Regions from separate parts of the Homo sapiens genome. Here region 2 is linked to region 1. Evidence: fine-mapped expression QTL. Tissue or cell type: subcutaneous fat. Region 1 holds a variant in brackets; the other region holds the start of a gene. All regions are shown on one strand. Distances are from middle to middle.

Region 1 (7,917 bases):
CTCCAGCAGGGTAGACCAGCTGCCCGAACTGGGGTGTCCTTCCAGGAACCCAGGCCAGCGCGCCCCCAGTGCAGGCCTCATCCAGAAGCAGCTGCTCCCACCGCAGCACCAGCTCCTCGTGCAGCAGCTCTGCCAAGTGGCTCGCCACCGACGTGCCCAGGATGGGGCCCCCGAGGATAGAGAAGCGGCGCTGTCGGTTGCTGAGGTAAGCCCAGGGACACCTGGGGACCAGAGAACAGCAGGAGGATCACTCGGTGGCACTCAGGGGAGGACAGGTCCCATCCCAAGGAGGCCAAGTGCAGTGGACACATTTCTTATTTACCTAGAATTTCTTCCTTTGGGAGACCACCCCATCCTGTTCCCATGCCCCGGAAGCAATCATGTGACCCAGACCTGGCCACCAACAATATTCCATTGCCCTTGCCACAGTGACTGGTTCACAGATGGGTGTGAGACCCAAGCCAAGCCAACCAAAGTCCTTTCTGGGACTTCTGGTGCCGCAGGAAGGACACTGGCTCTTTCCTTAGATCATAAGCCATCTTGCTGCTACCTAGAGACAGCCTGTCTAGGGAACTGTGCAGGGAGAGGCAAGTGGACGAGACAGGAAAGAGAGACACAGCTCTATGAACATTATTTGAACACCTGGATGCAGCTGTGCCTGAACTCCACAAATGTAAATCTGCTTTCCCCTGAGATGATTTGGAGTTGGAAGTCTGGTATAAGAAAGTACAGCTCAGACTGCATGGAGCAGGGGGGAAGTGGGTATGACGGAAAGCTGTACGTGCGTCCTAGCACCTCCTACATCCCCACCACCAGCTATGCCTATCCATCTCCTCCTTTCTCATCAGCCACTTGCCCCCAGGGCTGGTGTCCACCGAGGTCCTGGAGCAGCTTCTTCACACTGACCACTGTCTTCTTCTTAGTGCGGCTCTGCATGGAAAGGCCTTGTCAGGCTCACACACCCTCGAGTTCACCCCTGAAGGACAGCAGGGAGTCCCCACCCCTGGAGTCACGGGCCACTCACCCCCGCTCCCTCCAGCTTGAAATTCTCCAGCATCAGCTTCCCCAGGGGCGCAAAGGCTACGTCTCCATGATCCAAGAGGAACCGGCTGATCTGGGGAGAAGAGGAGGCCAGGTCACTAAGCACAGTCTCCAGGCTACGCAGCACTGTCCCCCGTGGGCCCACTCACCTGCTCAGTCACATCCAGCACGACTCGGGGCCGCTTCCGATACCGGCACCCTCCGCGGAAAAGCAGGTCCCGGGCAGTCAGGCCAGGGTCCCAGGGATCTGAGAAGGAGGTTACGGAAAGGGCTGGGGAGGGCACAGGAGTGCGGCCAGATGCCCTGGGCGACTGGAGGTATCCAAGGGTCCTGAGCAGGCACAGGCTTAGCAGGGAGAGGAAGGTCTCAGGAGCGGGAGCAGTGGGAAGAATAGGTGGAGCAGTGTGGAGTGAGCCCGGGGGAATGAGACCCTTACCGATGAGGGGAGGCAGCATGGGGAGAGGCCCAGGGGTTGCCGGCTCCCACAGCAGGTCCTTGGTCACATGCAGTGCCCCATTCTGAAGGGAGGACAATCGCAAGGACAGTATCATGATGAATGCCCTCCCTGGGCCAGGCTGTGCACAGGCATTCATCTCTTATCAACTCATCCAATCCTCACAACAATCCTGCGAAGCTGGGATGACTGGCATTGTCATTTTACTGCTGAAGAAACTGAGGCACACTGCCATTTGCCCCAGAAGACAGAGCCGGTAAAGAGAAGAGCTGGGATGTGAACCCAGGCAGCCTGACCCCAGAGCTCCTGTTTCCGACCTCCACCTGTGCTGGCTCTCAAAGAAGGAAGCCCCTCATGCCACCAGTGGCTGGTCCACATCTCACGTAACCTCACTTCCATTCAGGAGACCTTGCAGTCACTCTGGGAGCCCGGCAGGCGGCTCCACCTCCCTTTGCTGGGCTGGCCTGGGATGTTTCGGCCCAGACATTCAGGGGACAAAAGAGCTAGGAAACCAGACTCCCAGAGGAGCCCCAATTTGACGCCAGACCCTCCCTCGTAAGGATGCCATCCCTGACCCCCGTTCCCCAAGCCTCTGCTCCACTGTCTCTCTTTTTATTTGCTCACCCACTTGCCTCTGCCAGGCTTCATTCCCAGACAGGGTGTTTCCAAGGGGAACTAGGCGGCTGAGGATTCCAAGCAAAGGGCCAGTGTCCCTCCAGAGGCAGCAGAAACCCTGCAGGTCTATCCTCCCCTCTCCCAACCCTACTATGCTGTTTCAGCATCCTTCTGCTTTCATTCCAAGCTCTGATCACATTTTGTAAACACCTTATCCATTGGATAAAGTTCACTTGTTTATTCTCGCTCAACTCAGCTCTCCGTTCCAGGAAGGGAGGGGTCAACCGACTGATTCAGGCAGCATTCTCACGGTCTCATAAGGGACCCGGCATAGTGGGGGCATCCGTCTAGGGATGGCAGGGTAGCCCATGTACCCCAGAGGAGGTGGCAGAGCCTGTGTCTCAGCAGACTCGTGTGAATGCCACCACTCTGTGGCCTTGTCAACTGATGTGAATGTGAGACGGGGGACCCAGGGAAGGGATGTCCCTGGAGCTGCCAGGGCCCCCTGCCTGCATCCTCACCTCTGAGTTCTGGGGCTGGGCCTCTGGCAGAGTCAGTGCGTCTCGCCAGCTGCACATGAAAGAGAGGTCAGGGACGTCGCTCAGACCAAGGGGGCCGGTCAGAAACAATGCAGGGCGGAGGGAGCTGGGGAAGTCCATCCTGGAAACAAGGACCAAGCACCACACTGGCCACCTCGAGAGACTGGAAGCTGGTAAGGGGCGCCAGAGTTCCTGAGGAGTGAAAAGTGCACTACGGGAAGCATATGTTCTTTGAGGAAGCAGATAACAAAAAACAAATATGTAGCCCAAGGCCAAGCAGTAGTGAGAACTGTATTAAAGCCAACCACCCGTCCAGGAGAAGGGGATCTGGTAGTGGGCTGAGGGCGTGGTTTCAGCAAAGCCAGCCAGGAAAAGCCTCGTTGAGAAGGTGGCGTTTGAGCACAGCCTGAACCTAGTGAAGGAGAGAACCATGTACGCAACTGGGAAGAGGGTTCCAGGCCGAACGGTCAACAACTGTGAAAATCCTAGAGCAGTGAAGTGTGTGAGAAAATGAGGCAGCCAGAGTGAGCGAGGTGGAGAGCGGTGGAGATGGAGTCAGAAAGACGGCAAGGGGCAGCCTCTCTCCCGGCTCGTAAGTACCGTCATCATACATTTACAGACTACACCCCCAAGACGCTCAAGTTACTCCACAGCCAGGGACTGCATCTGAGCATCGTCTTCCTACTGTCAAGCACAGTGCCTCCCAGAAAATGCACTAGGGGTTGAAAAAAATAAATTTCTATCACAAGGGGCCGGGCGCGGTGGCTCACGCCGGTAATCCTAGTACTTTGGGAGGCCGAGGCAGGCGGATCACCTGAGGTCGGGAGTTCGAGACTG[G/C]CCTGACCAATGTGGAGAAACCCGGTCTCTACTAAAAATACAAAATTAGCCGGGCGTGGTGACGCATGCCTGTAATCCCAGCTACTCGGGAGGCTGAGGCAGGAGAATTCCTTGAAGCCGGGAGGCGGAGGTTGCGGTGAGCTGAGATCGCGCCATTGCACTGTAGCCTGGGCAACAAGAGCGAAACTCCATCTCAAGAAAAAAAAAAATTACATCACAAGGCTTTGGTAAATACAGTCCTCTAGAAGTATGAGCAGCCATAGCATCCCTCCTTTTTAATTAACAAAAATAACAGGGGCAAAAATAACAGCAGCGCTCGCTGACCAAGCGCCAGCATCTATCTGCCAGGCACATGCTAAATGCTGCACTCTTCTATCGCCGTCCCTGTTAACAGAGTTCAGGAAACGAAGGCTCAGCAAGAACTTTAGTCCAACAGCTCTTAGCTGCCACAGCCAAGACTTGATTCCCATCCGATTCAGAGGCAGAGCTCCGAACCAGTGCTCTCGCATGCACCGAAATGCAAACGCTAGCATTAGAGTCTCGCTATACAAAAATCTTTTCCCTTTGGCCGGGTGCGGTGGCTCCCGCCTGCAATCCCAGCACTTTGGGAGGCCAAGGCGGGCGGATCACCTGAGGCCAGAAGTTTGAGACCAGTCCGGCCAATACAGTGAAACCCTGTCAATACTAAAAATACAAAAATTAGCCGGGCGTGGTGGTGTACACCTGTAATCGCAACTACCGAGGAGGCTGGGCACGAAAATCGCTTGAATCTGGGAGGCAGAGGTTGCAGTGAGCCAAGATCATGCCACAGCACTCCAGCCTGGGTGACAGAGCAAGGTTCTATCTCAAAAATAAAATAGAAACAAAAATATTTTCTCTTGGAACCGCATAGCCTGAAACGATCCTAGACAGGCGGAGGGCGCTGGTGGAGAGCACGACCCCACAAAAGCCCTCAGACAAGGCAGCCTCGACTTCCCCGGCCGGCTTCCCGCCCTCGCTGCGGGCTCTCCAGGACCCTTTAGACCTCCAAGGCTACAGAACTCAGTCGGATCCGCAATAACGACAGGCCGGGGACTGCGAAACGTGAGCCTGCCGCGGGGACTGGGGATTGGGGGCGTCCCTCCCCTCCTACATCTGCGGGTCCGCTCCTCGAACACGCGCAGTCCGCGCGGAGGGGGCGCATGCGTGCACTTACGTGACCCCGGCCTCGTCGTGGTCGTCTGGAAAATGGGCCTCGGCGTGATGCTCGCCGGACCCTGGCACCACGAGGGAAATCTCAAGTAGAACCCCAGCTTTGGCACTCGGGACGGGTCAGCCCCGCCGCAGCTACCCACGGTCTTCCGGTTTGGACCGGAAGTGCCTCCTGCGGAGGCAGGAAGTCCCGCCTCCCAGCCAGGCCTCTTAGGGTCCTGGCGCGCCCCCTCCCGGGAGGAGAGGGAACGGGCGTGCAGGCGGCGCGTGGGCAGCGGAAATAAAGCTCCCTTGAGTCCCAATAGTGGAGGCCGGGTGGACTTAGGTTCGAATCCCACATCTACTTCACCAATTTCCTCAGAGTTGTATTAAATTAATCATTTAACGAACTCCCACAGAACACCTACTATAAGCCAGACCTGTATTGGTCAGTAGGTATCCTACTGATTGTCCTTAAATCCCAAGAAGCGGGCTTTACAAATAAGGGTACAAATACCTACTAAGAGTGAAGCTTTTCCAGGGGTGGTCAGGCAGGGAGAGCTTTAGGCAGTGGTCTTCAAACTCTAGCTAGCGTGCGTCAGCAGTAGCACCTGGGGGGCTAGTTAAAACACAGTCTCCAATTCGGTGAGTCTGGGGTGGGACCTGATGATTTGCCTAAGTTCCCAGGTGATGCTGAAACTGCTTATCTGGGGGCCATGCTTTAAGAACCACTGTCCAGTCATGAACCTTACCGTTATCCTAACATAGTACTTCTCAAACTTCAGTGAGCCTTAGAACCACCTGGGGGGCTTGTTACAAGTTTGCTAGGCTCCACCCTACCTCTGCCCCCCGAGTTGCTGATTCAGTAGATCTGGGATGTGGCCCAAGAGTCTGCATTTCTAGCAAGTTCCCAGATGATGCTGGTCCAGGGGCCATACTTTGAGAACCGTTGCTTTAAAGAATCAATTTCCAAATTCTCAGCTGTCATCTATGTCTTTATTTATTTTTTTGAGATGGAGGCTAGAGTGCAGTGGCACGATCTTGGCACACTGCAACCTCCGCCTCTTGGGTTCAAGCAATTCTTCTGCCTCAGCCTCCCGAGTAGCTGGGATTACAGGCCTGCGCCACCATGCCCGGCTAATTTTTGTATTTTTAGTAGAGACGGGGTTTCACCATGTTGGTCAGGCTGAGTCTTGAACTCCTGACCTCAAGTGATCCGCCTGCCTAGGCCTCCCAAATTGCTGGGATTACAGGATGAGCCACCACGCCTGGCCTATATTGTTTTTATCTGGAAGTTTTTACCTGGACTAAAAGTGCCAGCAGGGCTGTGTTCCTTTTGAGAGGCTCTAAGGAAGAGTCCACTATCTTGTCTTTTCTGGCTTCTGGAAGCTGCCTGCATTCCTTGGCTCATGACCCCTTTCCATCTTCAAAGCCAGCAATGCCAGTCGGATTCTTCTCATGAGGCCATCTCTCTGGTTTTTACTCTTCTGTCTCCCTCTTTCCCATGTAAGGACCCATGTGATTATAGTAGGCCCGCCCAGGTAATCCAGGATAATCTCCCTATTTTATTTGTTTTATTTATTTTTTTGAGACAGGGTCTCACTCTGTCGCCCAGGCTAGGGTGCAGTGGTACCATCATGGCTCATTGCAGCCTCAACTTCCCAGGCTGAGATGATTCTCCCACCTCAGTCTCTCGAGTAGCTGGGATTACATGCAAGCACCACCATGCCTGGCTAATTTTCTTTTTTTTTTTTTATTTTGAGACAGAGTTTCACTCTGTCACCCAGGCTGGAGTGCAGTGGCGTGATCTTGGCTCACTACAACCTCCACCTTCCAGGTTCAAACGATTTTCCTGCCTCAGCCTCCCGAGTAGCTGAGACTACAGGTGCCTGCCACCACACCCAGCTAATTTTTGTATTTGTAGTAGGGACGGGGTTTCACCATATTGGCCAGGCTGGTCTTGAACTCCTGACCATGTGATCCACCCGCCTTGGCCTCCCAAAGTGCTGGGATTACAGGCATGAGCCACCACGCCCGGCCTAATTTTTGTAGTTTTTGTAGAGATGGGATTTCATCATGTTGCCCAAGTTGGTCTCTAACTCCTGGGCTCAAGCTACCTTCCCACCTGGGCCTCCCAAAGTGCTGGGGTTACAGGTGAGAGCCCTATTTTAAAGGCAGCTGATTAGCAACCTTACTTCCACCTGCAACCTTAATGCCCCCTTGCCAAATAATATACTCATAGGTTCTGGGGATTAGGCTGTAGACATCTTTGGGGGAACCATTATTTTGCCTACCACACTAATATTCTACATTACCCTTGTAAAACGCCTATCCAGCTTTGGCACTGCGAGGCCAGTTCCATTTCTTCCTTTCCTCCTTTCTCTGAATAAGCCATTATCAATTTGCTTTTGTAACTGACATATACTCAACATGCAGTAAAGCACACGAGTCTTAAATGTACAGCTCATTGAATTTTTATTCATACATAGAAACCCACATGAACACCACCCAGATCAAGACAGAGAACATTTCTATCACTCAAGAAAGTTCCAGCCAGGCACAGTGGCTCATGCCTATAATTCCAGCACTTTGGGAGGCCGAGGTGGGAGGGTTGCTTGAGTCCAGGAGTTCAAGACCAGACTGGTCAACAGAGCAAAACCCCCATCTCTACAAAATTTTTTTCTAAAAAGAAAATTCCCTGGTGCCACTTCCCAGTCAATACTTCCTTCAAGAAGGAACCACTATTTGGACTCTTATCACCACAGATTAGTTTTGCCAGTTCAAGAACTTTACATAAGTGGAATCATGGAGAGGATGTGTCTGGCTTCTTCCACGCCATGTGCCTAATAGATTCACCTGTGTTGTGTACGCAGCTGTTGTTTCCTTTTTAAATTAGTGAGTCGTGTTCCATTGTATGAATATACCATTGATTTGTTCACGCAACCTCCTGTTGGTGAGCGTTTGGGGCGTTACTGGGTTTGATGACTTTGTGGAAGTCTCTCTGTGGATATGTGCAGCCCTCAGTCCATTTCTGGACATCTGCTGTGCTGTCCCTTCACTCTCCTGGGCCTCATCCCACTCTCTGGGCTGCACACACACACAAAATGGAATTGTTCTTCCTGATGTCAATTCTTGACATGTTGGGGAGGCTGACTACCCAGCCCACCACACCTGCTTCTTCCAAGTCAAAGGTTCTGGGAGGACTCCACCACCTGGTCCTCATATGCCCCAGCATCCTCACTGTCACAATCCTGGAGAGAG
Region 2 (6,458 bases), 42 kb before region 1:
CTCCTCGGCAGCTGCACAGTATCTCACGGTTCAGATGCACTGCAGTTCACAGGTCCCCCTGCTGCTGGTTCAGATACACCACGATTCACAGGTCCCCCTGCTGCTGGTTCAGATACACCACGATTCACAGGTCCCCCTGCTGCTGGTTCAGATACACCACGATTCACAGGTCCCCCTGCTGCTGGTGCTAGGCACGTGCACTGTTTCTGCTGGTTTTGATTTACAGTTAGGAACAGTGCTGCAGGGAGCGCTTGTCCCCATCTCCTGCACACCTGTGCAAGAGTTCGCAAAGGGATTTGCCCATGGTTTAACTGCTGGTCCACATGCATTCCACTGCCAAATGCTTTTGCAAAGCGGCAGAACCCATTCACACTCCCGCCAGCAGCAGGTTCGTGCCACTCCTCAATGTCACTGGCTGGTAGCGTCCAAAGCTTCACCTTCTGCCAACAGGGTGGCTGTGAAATGGTATCTCATTATGGTTTTAATTTACATTTCCCTGGTTACTAGTAAGGCTGCAGTCCTTTTTATATGTATGTGCTTTCTGTGTTTTGTAATCTATGAAATGCCCGTTCCTATCTTTTGTCCTTTCCTTTTTTTTCTCTCAGAATTGTAAGAATTCTTTAAATATTCTAGATACTAGCTCTCTGTATGTTTTGTGTCTCATTATAGTGTCTTTCATGAACTAAATGTGTTGTTATTATTATTGAGACAAGGTCTGGCTCTATTGCCCAGCCTGATGTGCAGTGGCATGATCACAGCTCACTGCAACCTCCGCCTTCCGGGCTCAAGCCATCCTCCCACCTCAGCATCTCAAGTAGCTGGGACACAGGCATGTACCACCAAGCCCAGTTAAATTTTTTTTGTGTGTGTAGAGATGAGGTTTCACCATGTTGCCCAGGCTGGTCTCAAACTCGTAAGCTCAAACCATTCACCTGCCTTGGCCTCCCAAAGTGCTGGGATTACAGGTGGGAGCCACTGCACCTGGCTGAATGTCTTAATTTTGAAAGAGACAAATATATCAATCTTTCTGCTTTAGGGTTTGTTTTATTTCAGAAATCCCTCCTTAGCCTCAGGTCATGAAGAAATTTTTTCGAATTATTTTCTAGAAATTTTACATTTTTGCTTTTTCAGTTTAAGTCTTTAATCCTCCTGGCGTTTTGTGATGGTGTGAGGCTGGGATCTCACACATCTTTTTTTTTTTTTTTTTTTTTTTGAGACAGAGTCTCACTCTGTCACCCAGGCTGGAGTGCAATGGCGCGATCTTAGCTCACTGCAACCTCCTCCTTCCAAGTTCAAGCAATTCTTCTGCCTCAGCCTCCCAAGTAACTGGGACTACAGGCGTGTGCCACCATGCCTGGCTAATTTTTGTATTTTTTTCTTTTTTAGTAGAGACGGGGGTTTCACCATATTGGCCAGGCTGGTCTTGAACTCCTGACCTTGTGATCCGCCCACTTTGGCCTCCCAAAGCACTGGGATGTGACCGGCCGGATCTCACACATCTTTAATATTCCTCCTCAGCACCTGACATGCTGCTGTAGACAACTTTATTTAATAAACAGAATCAAATACTGCTTTGTGTTCAAAGCTCAAATTTCACTCTTGAGAAAAAAACTTAAGCTTTTCATACTCTGCGTCAGCACTATGACAAAGTTAGCATTGGTGTATCAAGACTTTTTGGGATGTCTTTACCTTCACTGCCAATTTTTGGTATAGGACTAAACGCACAATGAAGCTGAGCCTAAAGAGCAGCAACATGGAATTAGAAACCTGGATTCTCATCCAAGATCCAACACTCTTCACCATCATGTCTGTATTTATGCAGTAAGAATTAAAATATTCAGAGTACCCCACTCCTAGGCAGATACCCAAGATAATTAGAAACTTTTGCTCACATAAAAACTCCTGCTTGCATGTTCACAGTGGCCTACTCACAACTGCCAGAAGGCAGAAACAAACAAAATGTCCATCAACAAATGAATGAATAAGCAAAATGTGGTGTTATCCACACAAAGGAGTATTATTCAGCCATAAAAAAGCATGAAGTACTGATACATACTACAACATGGATAAACTTTGAAAACATTATGCTAAAGGACAGAAACCAAATACAAAAGGCCGTATGTTGTATGTTTCCACTTGTATGAAATGTCCAGCATAAGCAAATCCATAGAGACAGAAGATAACTTAGGGCTGCTGAGGGACAGGGGGAGAAAAGAGGTATGACTGTTAATGGGGTTGGGGTTTCTTTTGTAGGTGATTAAATGTTCTGGAATTAGTTACTGGTGATGGTTGCATAGCATTGTGACTATAGCAAGAACTACTGAGTTATACACTGTAAAATGGCTAAAATGATAAATTTTATGTCATGCGTAAGTCATTTCGATTTTTGAAAACCTACTTTAAAAAAAAGTAGCACCAATATGTTCAACTCTGTTGCCCTAGAATATTCCAGCAGTGATTAAAACCACAAACTTGGCCGGGTACAGTGGCTCATGTCTGTAACCCCAGAACTTTGGGAGGCCAAGGCGGGCAGATCACTTGAGGCCAGGAGTTCAAGGCTACCCTGACCAACACAGCGAAACCCCGTCTCTACTAAAAAAAAAAAAAAAAAAATTAGCTGGGTGTGGTAGAACGTGCCTGTAATCCCAGCTACTCGGAAGGCTGAGGCAGGAGAATCACTTGGGCCCGGGGTGCGGGATGGCGGGCAGAGGTAGCAGGAGCTGAGATCGCAGGCACCATTGCACTACAGCCCGGGCGACAGAGCGAGATTGTCTGAATCAATCAATCAATCAACACCCTCCCCCTCCCCCTCCCTCTCCCTCTCCCTCCCTCCCTCTCTCTCTCTCTCTCTCTCCTGTGGCGGTCAGAGTAAAATTGAGAGCTCACTTTATGCAAAAGACTCTGCTAAGTGCTTTATTCCTATTGTCTCACTTTATTCTCTCATTAATCTTATAAAGCGCAGTCAGACTCTCCCGTTTATAGATGGGGAAATTGAGTCTTATAGATGTAAAGTCGCACACCCAAGACCCCACAACTCAGAAAGGGGCTACCTGCAATTCAGATGGAGGTATAGCAAGGCGCAGAGTCCTGTCCAGGGAGCCCACTGTGAGACCCCCCGACTGCCTCGCAGTCACCTGTACACATCATGTTGGGATCGCCGAGGGGCGCTGCAGCGATCCGGTTTCTGGGGCTGCGTCTGGGTGGCACGTTCAGAACGGGGACCTGCCTGGTTCTTCTTCCCAGCCCTTCCCCTCCAGCACCCGGCAAGGCCCAGTCAACACGAGCAAACTCGGAAATCCTGGCTGAACCCACGACCGCTGCATATTTCCATTTTAGAAAAACACGGCAACAACAACTCAAACCAAATCGTTCAGAAATGAGAATAAAGAAGCACCGACAAAGGAGGCGATTGCTGGGGCCGCTCGGGGGAGGAGCCGGGTGAGAGGCTGCAGGGAGGGCAGGGCATGCGCCGGCGACAACGGGGTTCGCGGTTTGGGGGGCAAGGCCCGGGGGAAGAGAGAGAACAGGGGTGCAGCGCCGCGGCGGGGGGCGTGAGGATGGAGCCGGGGGAAGGGGGGCTCTGAGATGTGAAGGGGCGGGGCTGGGGCTTTTTGGTCTGAAGGAAGGAGTCTCACGGGACGGAGGGACGAAGATTTCCTGGGGTCAGGGGCGCCAAGGGGCTTCGGGGCCGGATGCAGCGGAGGGGGCCCGGGGCCTGGGGGGCGTGGTGAGAGCTCAGAGGGGTCTCGCCAAGCAGCCGGCTGGCGCTGAGGGGACCGAGGAGGGGTCTGGGGCGAAAGGACCGCGAGAGGGCGCCCAGGGCGCGGGGGGCGCGGTACCTGCAGGCCGGCAAAGTCTTCCAAACCGGTCCCGCCAGACCCGCGCGGCCGCCGCCCCCGTCTCGGCCGCCGGAGCTGCTGCCGCGCCGCGCCCTCACGTGACCCGCGTACGCGCCGGGGGCGGAGCCGTCTCAGACCCGCCCCCACCCCCCGGCGTCCCCAGCGCGCCGGTCCGTCCCGAGTGCGCGTGCGCAGCGGTTGCCTGGGCGACCGGGGAAGCGTTGGGCTGTAAAGACTAGGGCGCCAGCGGCTGGCGAAGAAGGAAAGAGGGTACTCTCTGGCTGGGCTGGGGCCGTAGCGACGTCCGCCGCGAACCTGGGCCCCCCAAAGCTGCGGGGCGTTCGGTGTCGCCGAAGTAAACATGCACCCTGAGCCCTCGGAGCCTGCGACAGGTGGTGCAGCAGAGCTGGATTGCGCGCAGGAGCCCGGCGTGGAGGAGTCTGCGGGTGACCACGGGAGCGCAGGCCGAGGGGGCTGCAAGGAAGGTGCCGACTGCCCCCCAGGGAGGGCGGTGGGCGAGGGGCAGACACGGCTAGGCGCTCCAGCCCCCTTCCCACACCACATACCCGATCTTCACAGCCAAATAATAACAATAATAATAATGGTAGCAAGCAACGCTCTGCAGTAGGGGCTTCTCTCGCCATTTCGTACTGAGGAGGAAACATACTTAAGAGGTTACAAAACTTGCACCAAACAGATAACCCTCGGCTAGTCAGTGACAGAAGAGACTTGGCCGGGTGCGGTGGCTCAACGCCTGTAATTCCAGCACTTTGGGAGGCCGAGGCGGGCGGATCATCAGGTCAGTCAGGAGTTCGAGACCAGCCTGGCCAACATAGTGAAACCCTGTCTCTACTAAAAATACAAAAAATGAGCTGGGCGTGGTGGCGGGCGCCTGTAGTCTCAGCTACTTGGGAGGCTGAGGCAGGAGAATCGCTTGAACCCGGGAGGCGGAGGTTGCAGTGAGCCAAGATCTCGCCATTGCATTCCAGCCCGGACGACAGTGGGAGACTCCGTCTCAAACAAACAAACAAACAAACAAGCAAACAAAACCCACCAGACTCAGGCCCAGACAGTCTGGGTCTCCAGAGCCCCAGCCCTAACCCACCACGCTATTCTCCCTGGTCCCAACTTTGATGCTTTAAATGTGTCCCTTTATTGCTATCACTATGTAAGATCAAAGGCTTTCTCTCCCTCCAGACTGCATGTTGTGTCAGGGCAAGACATCTTGATTGAATTTGGAGTCTAGTCCAGTGCCTGACCTAGGGTAGAGAGTCCGAATGAAGACTTGGTTCTGGGGTCAGTGTGTGATCCCCTCACCAAAGTTTGCCAGAATGGACTTGAAAGATAACCTTCATGGCCAGGCACGGTGGCTCACGCCTGTAATCCCAGCAATTTGGGAGGCAGAGGCAGGTGGGTCACCTGAAGTCAGGAGTTCGAGACCAGTCTGGCCAACATATTGAAACCCTGTCTTTGCTAAAAACACAAAAATTAGCAGGGCGTGGTGACGTGCTCCTGTAATTCCACTTACTTGGGAGGCTAAGGCAGGAGAATTCCCTGAACCCCGGAGGCAGAGGTTGCAGTGAGCCAAGGGGGAGGCTGAGGCTGCAGTGAGCCAAGATCACACCACTGCACCCCAGCCTGGGCAATGGAGCAAGACTCCGTCTCAAAAAAAAAAAAGGAAAGAAGGAAGCCTGGCTTCAGCTTCTGCTCCCACTAGACTTGGTGCCCTAAAGGAAACCTTTTAGTGATTACATTAAAAAACCACTTGATTTGTGTTCCAGTTTCTGAACGCAGGCAACAAATAAACCAGCTGATTTGTGTTCCAGGCAACAAATATATCTTAAGCATCAACTGTCCAGATGAACCTTGTATGAGGAGCCATAGGGAACTGGCATTACTCAGTGGAAAGACACTGGTCTTGGAGCCATTGACACTGGGTTCAAGTTGAGGCTCAGCAGCTGGCCAGCTTTATGGCTGTTGGCCCAGAGCTTAACCTCTCGGAGCCTTAGTCTCCTCATCTGTAAGCTGGAATAATTATACAGGAGTATAAGGAGAGAATTATAATTAAATGTCCCAGCATATAGTGGGCCATTATTAAATGGTAGCTCTTGTTATTAATTACATATTAATATTTATATATTGAGCGCTTATTCTTTATTTTTTCCACAAACATTTATCTGTTGCTTCCTGTGGCTGGGCATTCTATGCAAAATTGATGAGTTTAAGAACCAGTCCCCACACGCACAGCCTTTAGTCTTGTTCAATAGACCACACAAACACAGAAAGCAGCAGACAACAGCTCTTAAAGTTAAGTGCGGTTGAATTGGCCAATTTTGAATGACCTTTAAAAAAATTATTCATTTGAATGTGCTCATGTTATTGTTATCATAGATATTCTCACTATTTTTGTTTCTTTTCATGTGATTTTCCTTTTTATGATTTTTTTTTTAAGAGATGGAATCTCACTATGTTACCCAGGCTAGATCTTCCTGCCTCAGCCTCCTGAGTAGCTGGGACTACAGGCATGCTCCACTACACCTGGCTTCAGAAATTTTTTAAAAGACAAAAGAACAAAGAACATTAAAACAAATACCCGTGTTTTGCCAGCAAGAATTGAAA

Evidence for each region. PIP is the estimated chance that this variant, and not a neighbour inherited with it, causes the effect.
Region 2: DNAAF1 starts here. The variant in region 1 is fine-mapped to the expression of DNAAF1 in subcutaneous fat (GTEx, PIP above 0.99).

The regions. Positions count from the first base shown.
Region 1 is chr16:84,182,220-84,190,136 of GRCh38, forward strand. It overlaps TAF1C (TATA-box binding protein associated factor, RNA polymerase I subunit C), which reads right to left and starts at 4,838. Exons shown (of 15, transcript NM_001243156.2): 1 at 4,682-4,838; 2 at 2,632-2,841; 3 at 1,478-1,559; 4 at 1,191-1,288; 5 at 1,025-1,114; 6 at 857-930; 7 at 1-221. The coding sequence starts at 2,769. RefSeq lists an enhancer at 4,678-5,178 and a silencer at 4,824-5,033. The variant G/C (reference allele first, on the strand shown) is at 3,487.
Region 2 is chr16:84,141,241-84,147,698 of GRCh38, forward strand. DNAAF1 (dynein axonemal assembly factor 1) reads left to right here and starts at 4,068. Exons shown (of 12, transcript NM_178452.6): 1 at 4,068-4,324. The coding sequence starts at 4,201. HSDL1 (hydroxysteroid dehydrogenase like 1) reads right to left here and starts at 3,937. Exons shown (of 6, transcript NM_031463.5): 1 at 3,840-3,937. RefSeq lists silencers at 3,362-3,411, 3,462-3,511, 3,672-4,121.